2 linked regions of the Homo sapiens genome follow. The protein of the gene in region 2 binds, or shares a complex with, the protein of the main gene of each other region. Each region holds a gene or a part of one and is shown on either strand. Other genes may lie near its edges. A codon is read from its position in the direction of its gene.

Region 1 (11,590 bases), on a different chromosome or scaffold from region 2:
TTTTTGGGTCCATCTCTCCCAAAGTAGACTACAAACTTCATAAGAGCAGAAATCTTTTATACTATATTCCCAGGGCCTGGGATAGCTCTGGGTGCAGAGTGGGCACTGAAATAATTGCTGAGTCAGTGAGCAGCCTCTGCTCCTGAAAGAGCCGCTGTTAGACATATAGAGCTCCAGTTAAAAATATATTTATATTTGTCTCTAATGTAGAAATTGAGCCACGCCAAACCTACTGCTTTTCCCCATGCATCCTGAGACATCGTTTTAAGTCAATACACTAAGATGTACCCAAAGAATGCTCTTAATAGACTCCCATATGAGAGGAGCAAGGTATCACTGTATGGGTATCGAGGTTCTTTTTGTATGGTGGGTTACAGGGTCTCACTCTGTCACCCAGGCTTGAGTGCAGTGGCACGATCCCAGCTCACTGCAACCTCCACCTCTCAGCCTCCCCAGTAACTGGGACCACAAGTGTGTGCTACCACACTCAGTTAATTTTTTCTTTTTCTATTTTTGGTAGAGACGGGGTTTCGCCATGTTGCCCAGGCTAGTTTCAAACTCCTGAGCGCAAGCAACTGCCTCAGCCTCACAAAGTGTGGGGATTACAGGCGTGAGTCAGGGCACTGGCCTCATGGGGTTCTTAATTTCCGGTTTTAGGCTGCTTAGTTTTTATGTTGATCTTGCATTATAAAAATCTGCCCATCCCTCAGCACCACGAAGCGAGTACTCTCAAACGCTGTTAGCAGGGGTAAAAACAGCACACCTGTATAAAATGCAAAATGTTCATACCCTCGGGTTCAACAATTCACCTCTGAAATTATCCCACAGAAGTATTTGCATAAATTTGCAATGATTCGAAGATGCTTATAAAGAATGGATTACGGCACAACCACATGAGAGAATACTACATGATCTTTAAGAAGAATGAGATTGCTATAAAAAGATGTTGGCCGGACACAGTGGCTCATGCCTGTAATTTCAGCACTTTGGGAGGCCGAGGTGGGCGGATCACTTGAGGCCAGGAGTTCAAGACCAGCCTGGCCAACACGGTGAAACCTCGTCTCTACTAAAAATACAAAAAATTAGCCGGGCATGGTGGCGGGCGCCTGTAACCTGCAGCTACTCGGAAGCTGAGGCAGGGGAAATCGCTTGAACCTGGGAGGCGGAGGTTGCAGTGAGCCAAGATGGCGCCACTGCACTGCAGTCTGGGCAACAAAGTGAGATTCCATCTCAAAAAAAAAAAAAAAAAAAAAAGATGTCTAACGTGCAGCAGGTAGAAAAAGCACAATCCAAAGTATTGGCTAGGCTCTGCTATGGACAGCAGTCTTATCTCAGAGCTGTGCTACCAGCTCAGGCGTGGAATGCTCCTCCTGCCATGTCCCAGCAGGAATGTGGAAAGAAACATAAATACTTTGTGTGTATGATCCCACCGTTGTAGACATTTTATTAAAGATGTCAGCATACAAAACCCCTCTGGAAATGCACAACAAAATACTCATGATGGTTACCTGTGGGAAATGGGATTATGGGGAGTTTAACTTTCTAAATTCAACTTTTGAATTTTTAAGAATAATTACCCATTATTTTTGTAATCAGAAAAACAAGATAAACATGTTTCCTTACACTGTCACCTGCATCCAGGAACCCCACCATCCTAAGGACCACCTTGGCCAATGACCAATAGTGGGGATGGGGGACTGAGCAATACTAACCCAAGTCCCACAGTAGAAACCAGCCCTCCCTGTCTCGGGCCTCAGCCCAGGTGGGAAGATCCTGCACCCTCAGCAACTCCATCCTCCAGGAGGATCTGCTCAACCCTCCCCACCCCCAAGCAAGGCCACAGCTCTAGCTAGTTATGCCCCTTACCCTTCACTAGTACCTGTGACTAACACTTCTGTTTGAAGAAGGCTCTGCAGATCTTTCTAGATTATGCTTCTTAACATGGGAGTAGGAAGCAGCCAGTCATCATGGCCATATGTCCCCCTAGAACTTCCAAGCAGTTCCCCGATCCCAAAAAAGAATGAAGGCTTTGTCAACTACTGGATTCCGCAAAGGATCTCTCCAGCCCACTCAGCTGCTCTAGGAAAGAAACATACTCCTTCTGGTTTGGGGAAGGGGCAAGACCCTGAGGGAATCATCCTCAGCATGGTCCCTCCCCTCCCCAGTTATTACCCCCACCCCAGACCCAAAAGCCAAAACACACATGCTCAGTTCAAAAACTCAGTGGCCTGGGGATGACACATATATTACCTACCTACTCCTGGCTTGGAGGCTGCTCAGGGCGAGAACCCTGGTTAGAAAGAGCTACTACCTCTTGGGGCCTTGCCAAGTATTTCAAGAACACTGAGGTGCTCAGGCAGCTGGCACCTACCCTATGTGGTTGGAAGCTGTCAGGTAACACTTGGCCTGTTCAGAGGCAGTCCAGCCTGAACATATCCTATCAGGCTCTGAGACATCAGGAAGGAGAAATGCCTAATGCTGAAGCTGGTGGGTGAGGCTTTGCACATTCCCCTGAACCACAGCCCCCCACCCGCTCAGTGTTTCTGCTGGGACTCGGTGGGAGGAGTGTTCCACGCCTAGGCAGGCACCACAGCTCTGAGACAAGAGTGGTGTCCACAGCAGAGCCAAGCCAATACTTTGGAGCCCAAACAGGGGGACATATCGATCACTTACCACAGCAAAACAACAAACATCTACCAGTCAGACAAGAGCTTTATTGATTCTTGTCTCCAGATGGTCACCCTACCACCTCATTGCAAAATGTCTGCCTTTCATCTTACCACCACCTGGCCTGGCCTTATCCCAGAGCCTGCTTGCCCTTGGACCAGTTTATCTTTCAAGCACCTGCTAGTGTACACCTCAATGTCAGAGTTTACAGAACTACAGAGCTGGAACGACCTGGGAAAACCTCAAGTCTAGCCCAGATGCAGAGAGGTCTAGGATCTCTCCCCAAGATATGCTGCCACACATCTCTGTGTTCTCCTCCTACTACTACAGGGAATGGCAGGACTTCACTGTGTGCTTGGTTGCTCAGTCCCCCATTAGAGGCCCTGCTCCAGGCAATTCTGCTGTTTAAGTGACTGGTGAGCAGCACTACTCAGACCAAGGTCACAGGCCAGTTAGCTTCTCTTGGCTTCAGTTCTAGAGTGACCTGAGGAGCAGCCTCAGAAACCTTAGGCGTCCCTCCTTCCAAGGTCTTGAAAAAAAGCAATGTAAGGTGGCCGTCATAAGCTGCATACAAACTGCTTGGTATAAGCCCACGCCCACTGCTAGAGGGGCCTCTTTTTTTTTTTTTTGAGATGGAGTCTCCCTCTTGTTGCCCAGGCTGGAGTGCAATGGTGCGATTTAGGCTCACTGCAACCTCTGCCTCGTGGGTTCAAGCAATTCTCCTGCCTCAGTCTCCCAAGTAGCTGGGATTACAGGTGCCCGCCACCACGCCCAGCTAATTTTGTATTTTTCGTAGAGATGGGGTTTCACCACGTTGGCCAGGCTGATCTCGAACTCCTCATCTCAGGTGATCCACCGACCTCAGCCTCCCAAAGTGCTGGGATTACAGGCATGAGCCACCATGTACGGCCTAGAGGGGCCTCAAAGTGAAGAACCGACTAGCGGTCAGCAGCATGGGCAAAGGGAGCCTCTTCCCTCCCTCAAGAGAAAGACACAGCATTTCATTGGTCTGTCTCCTAGCAGCCAAAACTGGATGCTACACATCAAAAGTGGCAAAGGGTTTTGCAGCAGAGACCAGGGTCTAGGTCAGGTAGCTGCCCTCAGCCATAGCTCACTCACCGATGACCAACAGCACAAGGATGACAATGAGAACCACAAAGAAGGTGTTGCCATAGGACACTAACAACTCCACCAGCCGGGACTTGAAAATCTTCTGCCATCTGTGAAGAAGACAAAAAGGACAGGAGTTGAAGAGAAAGCACACACACGAGCTCTAGGGCCCTGAGCAAAATGGAAATCCAGCTTTGTACTCTTCTCCAATGGCCGAATAGCCCATGCAAAGTCAGCCTCAGTGGCTTGCAATTCTCTAATTTGACATCCATTCAAGACTATTGGAAAAAAGGCCAGGTGCAATGGCTCACACCTGTAATCTCAGCACTTTGGGAGACCAAGGTGGGTGGATCACTTGAGGTCAGGAGTGCAAGACCAAACTGGCCAACATGGCGAAACCCTGTCTCTACTAAAAGTACGAAAATTAGCCAGGCGTGGTGGTGGGCACCTGTAATCCCAGCTACTCAGGAGGGTGAGGCAGGAGAATCACTTGAACCTGGGAGGCGGAAGTTGCAGTGAGCCGAGATCGCGCCACTGCACTCCAGCCTGGGTGACAGAGCGAGACCTTGTCTCAAAAAAAAAAAAAAAAAAAGATGCTGGTCCACGTATAGATCAAAATGTCTGGAAAACTAATCTTTTTTTTTTTTTTTTGAGACAGAGTCTTGCTCTGTTGCCCAGGCTGGAGTGCAGAGGTGTAAGCCACCGCGCCCAGCCTGGAAAACTAATCTTAAACGTGGGCAGTTGGCTGGGCGCACTGGCTCACGTCTGTAAACCCAGCACTTTGGGAGGCTGAGATGGGCAGATCACCTGAGGTCAGAAGTTCAAGACCGGCCTGGCCAACATGGTGAACTCCCATCTCTACTAAAAATATATATATAAAAAAAAATTAGCTGGGCATGTTGGCAGGCACCTGTAGTCCCAGCTACTCGTGAGGCTGAGGCAGGAGAATTGCTTGAACCCGGGAGGTGGAGGCTGCTGTCAGCCGAGCACCACACCACTGCACTCCAGCCTGGGTGACAGAGCAAGACTCTGTCTCAAAATAAAAACAAAAACAAACAAAAAAACCACAACAACAAAAAGAAAACATACTGGTAGTCTCTGAAAAGGGAAACTTACTTTTCATTGTACTCCCCTTTGTAATATTCAAATGTTTGCCCCATACACGTTATTTCTTTAAACTGTCTTTCCACATGATAAACCTTGGTTTGTCTATATCCCCCGACCCTGTTATGATGAGATGGACCCCAGACCTCACATCATTTCCATCCACAAATGCTTTGGGATGCAGCTCTAAGAAGAGACTTCAGAAGTGTTTACATATTGTTCAAATCAACAAGAAGCCCTCATCATCAGGGCTAGAGTTGAATATGCCAATCACTGAAGGCAATGATATTTGTTTGAATCCGGACCCAACAAGGTACCGATTTGGCATTCGGTAGATAAACGTCTTAAATCCAGCTTATTCTGGAAGCTCCCCCTTCCCTCTCCCTCTTTCATTTGCTTTTCCAGTTTCCTTTGTGTAGAAATCAGATTGTCTGTCCTCTAAAGCTTCCCAGATTAAAGCTCCCCGGGGCCCTCTATCTCTGCACGTCTTGTCAACTGTACGAAGGTGTGGTTTTCTACAAGAATCCTCCTCAGACAGCACTGCATACTTTCTATGGTATCACATCAAAGATAATTTTTCACGAAAAAACGGCTTTTAAAAATACCTGTGGAGATTTGGCCTTATTTGTAATATCGTAATTTAAATAGGGATGTGTTCAGGTATTATACATAATTAAAATTAATCTCCAATTCACTTTTAACAGGTCCTCTGTTCATTAAAAGGGAATATGGCTTCATCCTCCACAGGCTGAGTAATGTTCATGCAGCCACTGCGCAATACCAGTGAGACTAGTTAGGAGGACAAGAGTCACCAAATCAGCAACAACGTGACCCAGTGGTGCAAGTCTTCCGAATCCCACGCTACCATCCCAGCACCCCGTGGACCAAGAGTGGGTGGGAGGGCATCATTTCCAGAACTGTAACATAGATCTTCCTGCCTCTCGGGGGCATTCTGAAGACCAGAAGGCAGGGGACACAGGAAAAGGAACTGAGCAAGTCATGACGAAGCAGAACCCTGGGAAGGGTTGGCAATAACAAACACAACCCCTGCCACCCCCACCCCAGACAGGTTCTACCTGTTCCATCGGGTCCCAATTCCAGGGTCCACCAGCTGCACACACCAGTCCCAGGGCTAGGGCACAGGCACCCTCCTGCCTAACTCGCCTGCTTGCTCCATAGGCCATACCTTTTAGGAGAAATGAAGGGAATGCAGAGAAGCAACACAACAAAGACCTCCGCATAGAGGAAGGTGGCAACTGCAGTCCACTGCAGACTCATCCTGTTGCTAGAAGGTTTCCCACAGGAAGATGTGAGCTTGTTTCCTGGCAGGGCACAAAAGGTACGGGACTTGTAAGCGCTGGGCAGCCAAGAACATCCAGTTCAGTTACCCTGCGAGGCTGGGGCCGCCACTCTCCACCCTGACCCCCTGCACTTTGCTTCAAAGTCTCTGATGCGCTGGCGGAAGCAGGGCTCCACTCGGCAGGGCCTCTTGGCCAGCAGCGTTCACAGGCCCCACAAACTTCCGTTCGCTGGTCAATTACCTGCCCCCTCCAGCACGTGTGTCAACACGTCCAGAGCGGCCTCTCCCGACGATCCCTGCCCCAGGAAGCCCGAGATTTCCGACGCCCGTTTAACTGAAAGGCGTTCTTCGGGAAGAGCAGTGCCAGGGCACCAAGAGGAGGACGCCTCGGCACCCATCGGGCGCTCCCTTCCCCGCCAGGCAGAACTCAGCCGCAGAGGCGGGCGCTCTGCGGGCCCAAATCCCCGCTACCAGGCAGGCCCAAGGCCGCACCTAGTCCAAGCGCTGCCGACGCCCCCGCCTCCCACCGTCCCCACGGCGCCCGCGGAGAGAAACCGGCACCTCCCTCGAGGATCCAGCGGCCTTCCGCCCGGGGCCGCTTCGCCTCCGGTGGGCTGGAGGCCCGCAAGAGCGACTCCTAGAGGGCAGGATTCGGGACCAAGCGCAAAGGCAGGTCTCGACCAAGCACCTCAAGGCCCCATACGGAGAAAGTTCTAGACGCAGTATCCTCAGAAGCCAGGGGTCCTTACAGTAGCCCTCGCGGGCCCCAGCGCCCACCCAGAGCGAGGGGCCTCCGACTTGGCCCCGGCCTGGCACACCGTCCCGGAGGCCCATCCCGGCCGCTCCTCCAGGTGGGGCTTCACCGCCCCCCGCCCCGCCCCCGAGACCAGCTTCTAGAGGCGCCGCCCGGTTTCCCCTCGCCCCTGCCTCTCACACGCAGGTAGGCTGCGGGCCCCGAGATTCCCCGGCCCCCGGGCCTCCCCGCGCCGCTCGCCTCTCTCCCTCGTCGATGGGCCGGGGAGCCTCCGCGGTCCCGGAGCCCAGCCCGGCGCGCGGAGCCCGCTCACCGAGTTTCCCACAGTCAACGTGCAGGCCCCGCCGCAGCAACAGAACTCTCCCACAGCAGCCCCGGCCCCGCCCCTCATACCGCGGCCGGAAACCGGAAGCGCCCGCCGGGCACCGCCCACCAGCCCTCGCGAGGCCCCGGAGGCTCCGCCCACCTCCGCTTCCCACCCCGCCCCGGAGCGGAGGGCCGGCGCTCCGAGCGGGAGAGGAAGAGGCGCCTCGGGCTCCGGGCGAGCAGGGCGGGGTGGAGCGAGCACGCGGGCGGGGCGGGGCGGGGCTTTGTCGGGCCGGCGAGGGCCGCTTCTCTAGTCCGCGCGGCCGTCCCACGTCTCTGTGGTGCGGGAGGGGCCCCGCCGAGGGGCGAGAACGGGAGGTGGGGGTGTGGGCGGGCCCCGCCGAGGGGCGAGAACAGGGTGGGGCTCCCGCGCCCGGACTCCGCCCCTCGCCCCTCCTCCGCCTCCTCCCCTTCCCCCGACTCGCCCCTGGGGAAGAGTGGGTGGGGATTCTGGGCCGGTGGAGGAGTCACTGTCGCTTCAGCCAGGCTGCGGAGCGGACGGACGCGCCTGGTGCCCCGGGGAGGGGCGCCACCGGGGGAGGAGGAGGAGGAGAAGGTGGAGAGGAAGAGACGCCCCCTCTGCCCGAGACCTCTCAAGGCCCTGACCTCAGGGGCCAGGGCACTGACAGGACAGGAGAGCCAAGTTCCTCCACTTGGGCTGCCCGAAGAGGCCGCGACCCTGGAGGGCCCTGAGCCCACCGCACCAGGGGCCCCAGCACCACCCCGGGGGCCTAAAGCGACAGTCTCAGGGGCCATCGCAAGGTTTCCAGTTGCCTAGACAACAGGCCCAGGGTCAGAGCAACAATCCTTCCAGCCACCTGCCTCAACTGCTGCCCCAGGCACCAGCCCCAGTCCCTACGCGGCAGCCAGCCCAGGTGACATGCCGGTGCTCTCCAGGCCCCGGCCCTGGCGGGGGAACACGCTGAAGCGCACGGCCGTGCTCCTGGCCCTCGCGGCCTATGGAGCCCACAAAGTCTACCCCTTGGTGCGCCAGTGCCTGGCCCCGGCCAGGGGTCTTCAGGCGCCCGCCGGGGAGCCCACGCAGGAGGCCTCCGGGGTCGCGGCGGCCAAAGCTGGCATGAACCGGGTATTCCTGCAGCGGCTCCTGTGGCTCCTGCGGCTGCTGTTCCCCCGGGTCCTGTGCCGGGAGACGGGGCTGCTGGCCCTGCACTCGGCCGCCTTGGTGAGCCGCACCTTCCTGTCGGTGTATGTGGCCCGCCTGGACGGAAGGCTGGCCCGCTGCATCGTCCGCAAGGACCCGCGGGCTTTTGGCTGGCAGCTGCTGCAGTGGCTCCTCATCGCCCTCCCTGCTACCTTCGTCAACAGTGCCATCCGTTACCTGGAGGGCCAACTGGCCCTGTCGTTCCGCAGCCGTCTGGTGGCCCACGCCTACCGCCTCTACTTCTCCCAGCAGACCTACTACCGGGTCAGCAACATGGACGGGCGGCTTCGCAACCCTGACCAGTCTCTGACGGAGGACGTGGTGGCCTTTGCGGCCTCTGTGGCCCACCTCTACTCCAACCTGACCAAGCCACTCCTGGACGTGGCTGTGACTTCCTACACCCTGCTTCGGGCGGCCCGCTCCCGTGGAGCCGGCACAGCCTGGCCCTCGGCCATCGCCGGCCTCGTGGTGTTCCTCACGGCCAACGTGCTGCGGGCCTTCTCGCCCAAGTTCGGGGAGCTGGTGGCAGAGGAGGCGCGGCGGAAGGGGGAGCTGCGCTACATGCACTCGCGTGTGGTGGCCAACTCGGAGGAGATCGCCTTCTATGGGGGCCATGAGGTGGGGCAGGTTGGGGTGCCGGGCACGGAGGGAAGCGTGTGGCAGGGAGGCCCGGGGGCAGGCAGCCGTGAGCGGTGGGGACAGTCTGGGGCGGGCCGGGGCTGATGCCAAAGGTGTGGGCAGGCCATGGGAGAGCCGGGCTGGGGTGGGCAGGGCCTTTGGGCAGCCGTGGACTCAGGCGCGGCAGTGGAGAGGCAGGAAGGCTGGGTGGGGACTGTCCTGTGCTGGTTGCCTGCACGCTCGAGGCCACTTCTGCTTCCTCTCCTCCTCAAGGAGGTTGTCCTGGCCTTAGAGCTGCGATCCTAGCGGTTTGAGCCTCGAGAGCTCCTGCCCGCCCCACTCCTGCAGCCAGCCAGGAGGAGACGCCTGCCATTCATGAGCGGGGACCGAGGGACGCAGCCTGCTGCCTAGCCCCTCCTGGGCCCTTGGGCCCTTTGAAGGCCGGCGTCCAGCAGAGCTGGCTGGCCAGGCAGGCCGGCATTATGGGCATGACTCAGCCCAAGCGGAGGTTAATGAGCAGCGCCCAGCACAGCAGTGGGACTTGGGGTCAAGGCCACCCCCGCCTGAGCCCACAGGCCTGCCTGGCTACCAACTGGCTCAGCTGCCTTCCCGGGCCCCCAGACCAGAGATGCCGGGCCCAGGCCGCCACTGCGGCGGGACACACTTCCTGCTCCTGGCGTGGCTGTCCTTCCAACCCTGTCTGTCTCCTGGCTCCCTGGTGGGCCGGGGCCGGCGGGCCAGACAGGCGCTGGGAAAGGTTACTCCAGGTCAATGCTCCCTTTATCTCGCCTCAGCCCCTCCCCTTCCTCGTGCCTGGGGTTGCAGCTGCCTTGGGCCCTGCTCTCTGCGACTCAGTTTCGGTTCCCCAGTGCTTCTTGGGAGGAGGGGCACAATGGCATCCATCCCCCGAAGGCCTGTGTGTGCTCCCTGGGTCAGGTGGCCTCTTGCCCTGGGACCTTGTCTCACTGGCTGTGCACCAGCAGAGAAGCAGGCTTGTCCCCGAATTCCACGGAGAGGGGCATCCCGGGTGTGGGCCAGACTGCAGATTCAGAGAAAAGGCCCCTGGACTTCAGCCACCACCCTGGCTTCCCTCTCCTCTTCTCCCGCATGCTGGGCTGCAGGGCCTTGGCAAGCAGCTGCAGCCTTGGGCGAGGCGCTTGGCACATTCCCCGCAGCTACATTGTCAGCCTTGGCTGGCACCCCTGCCAGCTCCCAGCACGAGTCTGGATTGCCAGGGTGCTTGCTTCAGGAATGGGAGATCGGGCTTGCAGGGAGCTCAGCTGTGCAGGCCGACCTGGGTGGCGGGGGCAGAAGAGAGATCACTGGTTCTTTGAAGGCCTTCGTCCGGGCTAGCTTCAGGAAGTAGAGAGATTACTGGTTCTTTGAAGGGCTAGCTTCAGGAAGTAGCACGTTGGCCAAGAGGGTTTGTTGGCCAGGGCAGGAGGGCCCGGTGTGCATTCACGGCCTGTCTGCATAGGCCTCGGCTGGAAAGCTGTGTGGGGTGAGAGGACCCTCGGGTAGCATGTGGCCCATGGCAGTCCCACTGGCTGATGTCCCCGTGGACACTGGCCTAGGCTCAGATCAGGGCAGAAGCAGCTGACTGGCTGGAGGGCACATAGCAGAGTATTCTGTCCTTTCTGGGATTGCCGCGAGGAGGCTTATTGAAACGCACATGCACACGATCTCTTGTTTGAGAACAAAGTAAAGCTCTCTTGATAAGTCTAAGCATCATTTACAAGAATGTGGTTCTTCTGGCAGCTCTGCCAGTGTGGTCCAAATTCCCACACTGGTTGCCACCATCAGGCTGTATGGGCTTGGGCAGGTCACTTTGCCTCCCTGGGCTTCAGTGTTCTGTGTACAGTGGGCACGTGAATACACATGCAGTGGGATGTGGGGAGAATCAAATGCAGAGACGTGAAAGCACTTGGCAAACAGTGGCAGGCTAGGCAGCTGTCATCAGACGGCTGTGGGGAGGCAAGGCTGGGGTGCGTGCCCCTGGACTGAGCCCAGAAATTCACAACCCCTTGGCTACCTTGCTGGGAGCACTTCCCAACACCTCCCATCTCCCCCGCCTGTCTGACTGCTGCTGCCACCTCTTCCCTGCGGCTGTCCCTTTCCCCACCTGCTGGTGTCCTGACATAGTGGTGGCCAGTGCAGGAAGGGGGACAGAAGGACAGGGGAGGCCTACCCACTGCTGAGGGAGCAAGGTCCAGGCTCAGCAGTGGGGACATCCACTGGGGCGAGTCCTGTAGGGCCCAGCTCAGGAGCGCATCCTCCTGGTTTCAGTGGGAAAATGCCATGCAAATTTCTCACCAAAAGGAAGTGTGGGAAAGTTGAGGGGAAAGAGGGCGTAAATAGGCCCAGACTGTTGAACCGAGTTTTTCAGAACCAAGAGACAGGGTTTCACTGTGCTGCCCAGGCTGGGGTGCAGTGGCGCCATCACTGCAGCTTCAAACTCCAGGGCTCCCGCGATCCTCCCACCTCAGCCTCCCGAGTAGCTGGGACTACA
Region 2 (11,258 bases):
AACTTAGTGTTGGGGTCTCGCTGTGTTGCCCAGGCTGGTCTCGAACTTCTGAGCTCAAGCAATCCTCCCACCTCAGCCTCCTAAACATAGTAGGTTCTTAAATGTTTTGATGGGTGAATGAATTAATTGATAGTTGACAGGACTTTCTAACTGGATAGCAGATGGAACTGGGAAGTAGAGGAGACAGATTACTGAAAATTGGAAGAACGCAAATATGGAATCCTGTTCAGCGGGTGTTTGCTGAGCCCTTCTTGTGCAAAAGGCTGAAGCGGGAAGTGCAAAATAGGCCCCAGCTGCTGGTGTACTCCAGGGAGGGGTCCAGAGCCCAGAATCTGCCCATATACACCAGTTCTAGGTCTTAGTCTCACCAACCTAAGATGTCAGTTTCCTTTCTGCTCACCCACCTGTCTGAATTTGAGAAGTAGATACTTCTTTGTTTTGTTTTGAGTATTACTGTCCACAGGCATAGAATCCATGTGACTGTGACTTTAAGGCTGTATATTATTCCATTATATTGATGTATTATCATTTAATAAAACCATTCCCTGGCATTTTTGTTGTTTGTTTACCTTCACAGATAATGCAGGAATGAATATCTTCATGTCTTCCTTTTCTTCCATTTTTTTTCTTTCATCATTTTCCCAGAGGAGTAATTTTTGTTCTGTTTTGTTTTGTGTTGTTTTCTTTTCTTTTTTTTGAGACAGCGTTTCGCTCTTGTTGCCCAGGCTGGAGTGCAATGGCGCAATCTCGGCTCACCACAACCTCCGCCTCTCAGGTTCAAGTGATTCTTCTGCCTCAGCCTCCCAAGTAGCTGGGATTATACGCATGCACCACCATGCCCGGCTAATTTTGTATCTTTAATAGAGACGGGGTTTCTCCATGTTGGTCAGGCTGGTCTCTAAGTCCCAACCTCAGGTGATCCGCCCGCCTCGGCCTCCCAAAGTGCTGGGATTACAGGCGTGAGCCACTGCGCCTGCCTTGTTTTGTTTTGTTTTGACAGCATCTCGCTCTGTCGCCCAGGCTGGAGTGCAGTGGTGCAATCTCGGCTCACTGCAGCCTCCACCTCCCAGGTTCAAGCGATTTTCCTGCCTCAGCCTCCCGAGTAGCTGAGAGTACAGGCACGTTCCACCTTGCCTGGCTAATGTTTGTATTTTTAGTAGAGACAGGGTTTTACCATATTGGCCAGGCTGGTCTCGAACTCCTGACCTCAAATGATCCACCCATCTCGGCCTCCCAAAGTGCTGGGATTACAGGTGTGAGCTACTGTGCCCAGCCAAGTTAAGGGCTTTTTATGTAAGCTTGATCACGTAGACATGATCGATTATTAACTCAATCTCCAGCTCCTCTCTCTTCCCCAAAGGATGAGGGGGGAGGCTAAAAGTTCAAGCTTAAGAGGCTAAACTTCAAATCCTGGCTTGGTCTTCCTGGTGACCAGCCCTCATCCTGATGCTGTCCAGGAGCCCAGCGAGTCACTTCATTAGAAGAAAAGGCACTCCTGTCACTCAGGATGTTGCAAGGGATTTTGGAGCTCTGTGTAAGATGCTCTTATTGGCCGGGCGCCGTGGCTGACACCTGTAATCCCAGGACTTTGAGAGGCCAAGGCGGGCGGATTGCTTGAGCTCAGGAGTTCCAGACCAGCCTGGGCAACAAAACAGCCTGAACAACATGGCAAAACCCCGTCTCTACAAAAAAATACAAAAATTAGCCGGGTGTAGTGGTGTGTGCCTGTGGTCCCAGCTACTTGGGAGGCCAAGGTGGGAGAATCGCCTGACTTGGGAGGTCGAGGCTGCAGTGAGCCAGGATCCCGCCACTGCAGTCAAAGCTGGGGTCAGAGTGAGACGCTGTCTCCAAAAAAAAAAAAAAAAAGATGCTCTTATTACTTCTATCACTCAGGAAATTACAAGGATTTTAGGACCTTTGTGTTGGGAACCAGGGCAGAGACCAAATATATATATGTGTGTGTATGTATATATGTATATATATATATATATATTTTTTTTTTTTGAGACAGAGTTCGTTCTTATTGCCCCGGCTGGAGTGCAATGGCGCGATCTGTGCTCACCGCAACCTCCACCTCCTGGGTTCTAGCGATTCTCCTGCCTCAGCCTCCTCAATAGCTGAGATTACAGGTGCTTGTCACCACGCCCGGCTAATTTTTATATTTTTAGTAGAGACGGGTTTCACCATGTTGGTCAGGCTGGTCTCGAACTCCCGCCCTCAGGTGATCTGCCCGCCTCGGCCTCCCAAACTGCTGGGATTACAGGCATGAGCCACCGGGCCTGGCCCCAAATATATAGGTCTTATTATGTCACAGTGCTTTTATTTGTTGAGTTATTTTTTTCTGTTTTCCCCATGAAAATGTAAGCTCCACCTTGGCTTACACTGTGCCAGGCTACTATTTGTAGGCAACTAATTGAGCACCTACTACACAGCAGGAGCTCAATTAGTATTTCTTGAATGAATTAAATCATGAGGGAATGAATGAGCCAAATAAGCAATGGAGGAGGAGACAGATGTTCCAAACAGAGAGGACTGCCTGTGTAGCGGAGCTGTGGCCACCAGGGGTTTGAGAGCTGAAGGAAGGCCTATAGGGCCAGTGTACATAGTACATACCAGGAGAGGTAGTGATAGATGAGGAAGAGAATTAAGCATGGCTAGATCCTAACGGACCTTGAAGGCTGTGTTTGTTTTAAGGGCAATGAGAAGGCATGAAAGGGTTTTTTTTTCAGACGGAGTCTCGCTCTGTCACCCATGCTGGAGTGCAGTGGCGTGATCTCGGCTCACTGCAAGCTCCACCTCCCGGGTTCACGCCATTCTCCTGCCTCAGCCTCCCGAGTAGCTGGGACTACAGGCGCCCGCCACCACGCCCGGCTAATTTCTTTTTTGTATTTTTGGTAGAGACGGGGTTTCACCATGTTAGCCAGGATGGTCTCGATCTCCTGACCTCGTGATCTGCCCGCCTCGGCCTCCCAAAGTGCTGGGATTACAGGCGTGAGCCACCGCGCTCAGCCATTGGGTGTAAAATTAACAGGGACTACTTTCTATCACTATGTCGGAGGTGGATGACTATGCTAACTAGACTTGAAAAGCTACAGACTACGGATCTCTTCATTGGCACACAACTGAGCCACCTGAGTAAATCACTCTCCCTTCATCCCTTGTTGACATTCAGCAAATCCTGATGGTGCTTCTGCCATGCACCAGGCCTCTACCAAGGGCTGCAGCAAATATAAACATGACTGTGGTTCAGGCTGCCCCCCAAAAAGGAGCCTCCTAATAGAAGGAGTGCCCCCTTCATCTTCCTGTGTCCCCTGCCCTGCCAGTGTTTGCCTCCCGTCTTCAGTCCTGTTTTCAGTCACCTGCTTCATATCGTGTCCATCTTTTTTATTTTTTATTTTTTTAGAGATGGAGTTTCGCTCTCGTTACCCAGGTTGAAGTGCAGTGATGGGATCTCGGCTCACTGCAGCCTCCACCACCTGGGTTCAAGCGATTCTCCTGCCTCAGCCTCCCAAGTAACTGGGATTACAGGCACCCACCACCATACCCGGCTAATTTTTTTTGTGTGCATATATATATATATATATTTTTTTTTTAATTAAAAAGTAAACTTTAATGTTGAAAATGCAAACTTGGGGAGGGCAGAAAGATCACATACAAGGCTGTCACTTCACACTTGGAAGGTTGCACAGCGGCTGGGCAGAGGTGCATTTTTTGTATTTTTAGTAAAGATGGGATTTCATCATGTTGGCCAGGCTGGTCTCGAACTCCTGACCTCAGGTGATCCACCCGCTTTGGCCTCCCAAACTGCTGGGAATACAGGCGTGAGCCACTGCACTCAGCCCTAGTGTCCTTTGTGCCACCCCAAGGCCCAGGCAAAATTAGGTGCTGTATACTTCTCTGAATGAACATGAAGTTTTCCCCTTGAGGCTTATGCTAGTGGGCAGCCAGTTCCCCAACCTGGGGATTCTCTCAAGGCTTACAGAGCTTACTGTATCAGTCATTTCAACCATCCACGCCAAATAGGGAAGAATAACTCTTGTCTTTCTAACTCACGAGACTATTATGAGGAGAAAAATATTAGAGGCTTGGCTGGGCACGGTGGCTCACGCCTGTAATCCCAGCACTTTGGGAGGCCGAGGCAGTCTGATCACCTGAGGTCAAGAGTTTCAGACCAGCCTAGCTGACATGGTAAAACCCCATCTCTGCTAAAAATACAAAAATTAGCTGGGTGTGATGGCCGGCGCCTGTAATCCCAGCTACTTGGGAGGCTGAAGCAAGAGAATCGCTTGAACCCAGGAGGCGGAGGTTGCAGTGAGCCGAGATTGTGCCACTGCGCTCCAGCCTGGGTGACAGAGCGAGAAACTGTCTCGGAAAAAAAAAACAAAAAACAAAAAACAACCTGGGTGTGGTGGTGCACACCTGTAGTCCCAGCTTCTTGGGAGACTAAGGCAGGAGGATTACAGGAGCTCAGGAGGTCAAGGCTGCAGTAAGCTCTGATTGTGCCGCTGCATGCACTCCAGCCTGGGCCACAGAATGAGACCCTGTCTCTAAAAAATAATAAAAATTAAAGGGGCTTTGCAAACGCGGAAGGTGTCTGGATGATTATCCCCTGCATGTGCAGTGCCTTGTTTACAATTAATTTGCTTTTTCCGTGTTTATTCAACAAATATTTATTGAGCCCTCACTCTCTGCCAAGCCCTGTGCTAGATGCTGGATAAGCAAGGTAAGTCTCTGCCCTCAAGGAACTTACACTCCAATGTGACTCAAGGGGAAAAGAATTTGAAAGTTGCTACTTACCCAGTCCCCTCACTGCACAGAAACTGAAGCCAGAGGTGTCCACACCTTTCTCCTTCCCATGCTCTGATAGCTCCTCACTGCTAAGCTCCCCATTGCCCGTGACCCCATGTGGCAGGTTTCCCGCCTGGGGTGCACTCCCAAAATGGTTTATGTAAATAATATTGAAAATTGGACCTTCTCTGCCAATAATGGGGCCGTTGCTTTTTGAAAAACTTCCCGTTGATAGTGTCTCCTATGACTACCCCTGTGTGGCTGTGTGGTTTACAGATCCAGTTGCCTCTGCTCTTGCATTGTGAGAGTCAGCAGAGGCCCAAGAAACCCCGATACTAGTTTGCTGCTGTTGGTGGGTTTTTTGAGACAAGGTCTCTGTCGCTCAAGCTGGAGTGCAGTGGCGCGATAACTCACTGCAGCCTCGAACTCCCGGACTCAAGCGATCCTCCTGCCTCAGCCGCCCCAGTAGCTGGGAGTACAGGTGCACGCCACCACGCCGGTTGATTTTTTTAAAAATTTTGTAGAGATAGGGTCTCGCTATGTTGCTCAGGCTGGTCTTGAACTCCTGGCCTCCAGCGATCTTCCCGCCGCGGCCTCCCAAGTTGTTGGGCTTCGGACGTGAGCTACGCGCCGGGCTCCCGGTTCTAGTTAAGATTTTGTTGCAGGCGATGAATAGTCACGTGGCCTCCAAGGTCCTAGATTTCTGAGGGGCGTCAGCTTGGCACCCTAATGTACTGTGATCTCTGGTCAGCTACCCACCCTCTTTTTGCTGTTTTCATCCTGGGGGCTAACCGCCAAGACATGGCCTCCAGTTTCCCTAGGGAAGCCTCCACAGAGGAAGGCACCGGCTGAGGCACCTGGGAAGACCAACCTGGGGAAGGTCTCCCTGCGCGCAGTCTGCGGGCTGGAGGGACCGGCCGAGCCTGCGCACTAGCGCCCCGCCGGCGCTGCTGAACTGAGAGGAAGGGGCGGGGCGTCGCCAGGTCGTGCCAGCATCCGCCGGACGCCGGAAGTGGTTCTCCGCCCCTGCCACTGGGCCATGGAGACTGTGGCACAGTAGACTGTAGTGTGAGGCTCGCGGGGGCAGTGGCCATGGAGGCCGTGCTGAACGAGCTGGTGTCTGTGGAGGACCTGCTGGTGAGGCCTGGCCCGGACAGAGGGAAAGGGAAGGTCGGAGGGCGGGTCCTGAGGAGAGTCAGGTAGGGGCCGAACCCTCCTCCCGGCATCGGCTTGGCCGAGGGAAGCCGAACTACGGCTCCCGGCAGCCTCCACAGCGCCTGGCTCCTGCCCGGAGGGCCTGCTATGCCGCAGAGGCTCCTGGGAGTTGTAGTGTCCTGAGCCCCCCACACCTCAGACTACGGGCCTGGAGCCCGACCGTGGTTAGACTGACGGGATCTGGGATCATGCAGGAGCTGTGAGCTCAGGGCGCTCCTCCAGCGGTGGAGGAATACAGTGACCATCATAAGGTGTCACCTATTACTGCGTCCGGCACGGTGCTAAGGCATCGCATGCCAGATCTCAGTCTTTGTAGCTCTAGGAGGTAGGCACTACTTCTATTCCTGGACAATAAAAGGTCCAGGCCCGGCAGGGTGGGGCAGGATGGGGCCAGCAGCCTCAAATGAGGACCGCGTGGGCTGTTGAGCAGTTCTGACAGCGTGTTTACTGTTCGGCCGCCGGGGTCAGCTGCTCCGGGAGCGGTGCCTGGAGCTGCCACCAGGTGGCATCTCCGCTCGGTACCGCCGCGGGGAGGGGAGACCGGGGGCCTCTGTCCCAAGAGCTGGCCCGCAGGCCCGGAGGAGCCGAAAGCCTGGGTCCCGGGCATGGAGATAGCAGAAGCTGGGGTGCCAGATACCGAGACCTGCGAGGGAAAGGGGCAGAGCCAGGGAGATGGCATGTCCAGATAGAGAATGGTTGACGCCCTACATTTCTAAATGATTCCTTTCCTCCCCTGTGGCAGAAGTTTGAAAAGAAATTTCAGTCTGAGAAGGCAGCAGGCTCGGTGTCCAAGAGCACGCAGTTTGAGTACGCCTGGTGCCTGGTGCGGAGCAAGTACAATGATGACATCCGTAAAGGCATCGTGCTGCTCGAGGGTGAGGCGCTGTACTCTCCCTTTCCCGCTGCCATCTGGGCTGCTCTGCGATGTGGGCCCCGTAGTCCAGGCACCTCTGAGTTGTCTCCGGTAGATTTACTGCACCAAGGGCTATACTTAGCTTGACGTCTCCCAGTGAACTTTTGGCTACTTACCGCCCACCATTGTTTTGCCAGACAGAGTGTAGCATGTCAGTTCCCCCAGGACTGTCTTGATCTGGGAAAGTGACTTGAGGTCACCCAACTAATCAGTTAATGGCTGAATTGGGACTAGAAGCTCCTGTTTTGTGAGACCTAGGCCCATGCCCTTCCCCCCAACACCACCACCGTGTTGCTTAGCAGCTATTGAGAATCTTTTGTGGCATGGAAGAGGTACAGAGGACTGTCCTACAAAATTGTGAGCAGATAGTGCTTTTTGTTTTTTGTTTTTGTTTGAGACGGAGTCTTGCTCTGTCCCCCAGGCTGGAGTACAGTGGCGCTGTCTCAGCTCACTGCAACCACCACCTCCCGGTTCAAGCAATTCTCCTGCATCAACATCCTGAGTAGCTGGGATTACAGGTGCCCACTACCACGCCCAGCTAATTTTTGTATTTTTTGTAGAGATAGGGTTTCACCATGTTGGTCAGGCTGGTCTCTAACTCCTGACCTCAGGTGATCTGCCCACCTCGGCCTCCCACAGTGTTGGGATTACAGGTGTGAGCCACCTCGTCCAGCCAGATAGTGCTTTTTGGATGGGAACCCTATTTCCTATTGGTTTTAGGTGGGTCATCATTTGTCAGAGGCCACAATACTTAACCACTTAGTTTCTCTGTAGCTCCTTGTGTTCAAATAATCATTTATAAGCACACAGTCAGTGTACAGCCATCCCTCTGTAGCCATGGGGGATTGGTTCTAGGAACCCCACCCCCACAGATACCAATAGCCACCCAAGTCCCGTATATAAAATCGCATGGTATTTACATGTAACCTGTGCACCTTCTCCCATATACTTTAAATCATCTGTAGATTACTTATAATACCAAATACAATGTAAATGCTGTGTAAATAGTATACTGTATTGTTTAGGGAATAATGGCAAGAAAAAAAGGTCTGTTCATGTTCAATACAGATGCAACTATCTTTTTTTTTTTTCTGAGTATTTTTGATCCATGGTTCGTTGAATCTATGAATACAGAATGCTGACTGTGTTAGCAAAGGATGCCTATTGAAAATCTATAAAAATGGCCAGGCACAGTGGCTCACACCTGTAATCCCAGCACCTTGGGAGGCCAGGGCAGGCGGATCACGAGGTCAGGGGTTCGAGACCAGCCTAATCAACATGGTGAAACCCTGTCTCTACTAAAAATACAAAAATTAGCTGGGCCTGGTGGCGCACACCTTTAATCCCAGCTACGCAGTAGGCTGAGGCAGGAGAATCACTTGAACTCGGGAGACAGAGGTTGCAGTGAGCCAAGATCACGCCATTGCACTCCAGCCTGGGCAACACAGTGAGACTCCGTCTCAAAAAAAAAAAAAAAAAAACTATAAAAATAAGACTCTTTCTTAAAAGATACAAATAATTTTACCCTATGTTTGTCTACTTCGGCAATTCAGATTTTCAGGTTTATTCTACAGCAGGGTGTAGGTGTAGAAGAAACAGCCTCTCTAAGTGTTGCCAGTCTAGTTGAGAAAACAGTACAGACAGGAAGATTTATAAACACCTGCAGAATTATTTAGCAACAAATTCTAGTGCATACAGTACAGTTATCCTCTGGGAAGTCTCTGAATTAAGAAAGTCAGGTGGGGCCAGGCACTGTGGCTCATGCCTGTAATCTCAGCACTTTGGGAGGCCAAGGCCAGAGGATGGCTTGAAGTCAGGAATTTGAGACCACCTGGCCTGTCTGTGTAACAAAGATGTTTAAATTAGCCAGGCATGGTGGTGTGTGCTTATAGTCCCAGCTACTTGGGAGGCTGAGGCAGGAGGATCACTGACCCCAGGAGTTTGAGGCTGCAGTGAGCCATGGACATGCTACTGTGCTCCAGACTGGAGTGACAGAGCGAGACCCTGTCTCCGTTTTTTGTTTTTTTTTTCCCGAGACTGAGTGTGCAATGGTGCAATCTTGGCTCACCGCAACCTCTGCCTACCGCATTCAAGCAATTCTGCTGCCCCAGCCTCCCGAACAGCTGGGATTACAGGCATGTGCCAACACGCCCGGCTAATTTTGTATTTTTAGTAGAGACGGGGTTTCTCCATGTTGGTCAGGCTGGTCTCAAACTCCCGACCTCAGGTGATCCGCCCGGCTCAGCTTCCCAAAGTGCTGGGATTATAGTCATGAGCTACGGCTCACGGCCCACCCTGTCTCTTTAAAAAAAAAAAAAAAAAAAAAAAAAAGGAAGGAAGACAAAGTCAGGTGGGGTCTTCGGGGAAGGCTGATTGAAGGTGAGTTTTGAGCTGATTTTTTTAAAGGGGGAGGGAGTCCTAACTTTTTTTTTTTTAAACAATAATTGTACAGCAGGCAGTTTAGTTAAAACCACAACGGCAGCACTTTGGGAGGCCAGGGCAGGCAGATCACTTGAGGTCAGGAGTTTGAGACCAGCCTGGCCAACATGGTGAAACTCCATCTCTACTGAAAATACAAAAATTAGCCAGGCGTGGTGGCGGGCACCTGTAATTCCAGCTGCTCGGGAAACCGAGGCAGGAGAATCGCTTGAACCCAGGAGGCGAAGGTTGCAGTGAGCCGAGATCACGCCATTGCACCGCAGCCTGGGCGACGAGTGAAACTCCGTCTGAAAAAAAATACCACAGCAGATGCCAAAACTGAGTCACGCTGCCTTTGGCTTCTCCAGGGCCCCGATTTCCTCATTTCAGTTGGATGGACCAGTTGACTGTAATACTGATAAAAGGCATGTTCTGTCACTGGGGTGTTGGCACAGCTGGGGTTCACCCTGTCCCAGAGCTCTGGCTAGGGTGCTGGGAGTGACTGGAGCTGAAAGGGAGGCTTAGGACTGTGACCCTCCCAGGATCACAGAGGCATTCAGAGAGTGGAAGGGGCCTCTGGGACACAGTATTAGGAAAGTATTAGGAAAGAAGCATTTCTCACCCTCTTCTCTGCCCCTCCCCAGAGCTGCTGCCCAAAGGGAGCAAGGAGGAACAGCGGGATTACGTCTTCTACCTGGCCGTGGGGAACTACCGGCTCAAGGTGAGGTGGGGACCCCGTTCCCTTCACCCTCCTCTGGGGCTGCAGGACCTTCTTACTGTGTCCTCCAGGGTGGAGCCCTGGACAGCGGGAAGGCTGAAGGGGTGCAGAGGTGCAGAGCGGTGTCAGATGAGGACTCCGAGGGAAGATCAGAGTGGCGAGGGGGTGGGGAGGAAGGTGACGTCAAGAGACTGGGTGCAGGCCCAAGCCTTGCGCTGTTATCTCCCGCAGAGTTGGGGTTGTTTGTGGACTCTACTCCGTGGGGTGGGGCTGGAGGGAGGGAGTGGGTGGAGGTCGAGGGAGGAGCCCCCAGGGCTGAAGAAGGGAAGGCCCTTCACGTGGGCAGGGGGAGTGGTGGATACTGAGGTGTAGCCGGCCCAGTGGCTCACGCCTGTAATCCCGGCTACTCAGGAGGCTGAGGCGGGAGGACTGCTTGAGCCTGGGAGTTTGAGGTTGCAGTGGGCTGTGATTGCGACGCTGCCGTCCAGCGTGGGCAACAGAGCAAGACCCCGTCTCTTATTAAAAAACAAACAAACAAAAAAACACTGCGGTGTGTATGACGCGTGCGCGTTTCCCCGAGCGCAGGAATACGAGAAGGCCTTAAAGTACGTCCGCGGGTTGCTGCAGACAGAGCCCCAGAACAACCAGGCCAAGGAACTGGAGCGGCTCATTGACAAGGCCATGAAGAAAGGTGACAGCCTCGGCCCCTTTGTTCAGCCCCGCTCTTCCCCACGCCTGGGCACTTTGGTCTCTCTGTAAATGAACCCCTCCAGGCAGCCCCTCAGCCCCACCCCTTCCAGTTCTTAGAGCCCCTTGCCCTGCGACTCCAGGTAGGGGTGTGCCTCTGTTGAGGGGCAGGGCTGGCGGAAGGGGACGGTCAGGGTTTCCGCAGGGGCCGGGCTCCTGACACTGTCCCTTTCCTTCCCCAGATGGACTCGTGGGCATGGCCATCGTGGGAGGCATGGCCCTGGGTGTGGCGGGACTGGCCGGACTCATCGGACTTGCTGTGTCCAAGTCCAAATCCTGAAGGAGACGCGGGAGCCCACGGAGAACGCTCCAGGAGGGCCTGTCCATCCTCGCTGTCCTTTCCCTGTTCTCCCCCTGCCCCCCGTCTCTATCCTCTGTGGCCTTCAGCTAATTTCTGCTCCCCTGAGATTCGTCCTTCAGCCCCATCATGTGCTTTGGGATGAGTGTAAATAAAACGGG

What was found.
Region 1: the proteins of FIS1 (region 2) and BCAP31 are in contact, whole or in part, in a crystal structure (PDB 8XWX), measured with the Homo sapiens proteins. Residues at the interface, in NP_057152.2 of Homo sapiens: Arg52 (codon at 6,854), Val56 (codon at 6,866), Glu59 (codon at 6,875), Glu60, Pro63, Lys64, Lys89; in NP_001132913.1 of Homo sapiens: Asp224, Leu227, Glu228, Ala231, Lys232, Ala235.

Annotation. Positions count from the first base shown.
Region 1 is NC_000023.11:153,717,086-153,728,675, forward strand, and holds the start of BCAP31 (B-cell receptor-associated protein 31), read right to left. Parts: upstream 7,303-11,590; 5' UTR 7,249-7,302; exon of another isoform or gene 7,116-7,248; intron 7,043-7,115; exon of another isoform or gene 6,580-7,042; coding exon of another isoform or gene 6,423-6,579; intron 6,204-6,422; coding exon of another isoform or gene 6,160-6,203; coding exon 6,068-6,159; intron 3,888-6,067; coding exon 3,787-3,887; intron 1-3,786. Other genes in the region: ABCD1 (ATP-binding cassette sub-family D member 1), read left to right, coding at 8,182-9,081. UniProt on the Homo sapiens protein: Functions as a chaperone protein. Is one of the most abundant endoplasmic reticulum (ER) proteins.
Region 2 is NC_000007.14:101,239,627-101,250,884, reverse strand, and holds the start of FIS1 (mitochondrial fission 1 protein), read left to right. Parts: upstream 1-5,803; 5' UTR 5,804-5,880; coding exon 5,881-5,925; intron 5,926-6,745; coding exon 6,746-6,878; intron 6,879-9,978; coding exon 9,979-10,055; intron 10,056-10,637; coding exon 10,638-10,743; intron 10,744-10,981; coding exon 10,982-11,079; 3' UTR 11,080-11,258. UniProt on the Homo sapiens protein: Involved in the fragmentation of the mitochondrial network and its perinuclear clustering. Plays a minor role in the recruitment and association of the fission mediator dynamin-related protein 1 (DNM1L) to the mitochondrial surface and mitochondrial fission.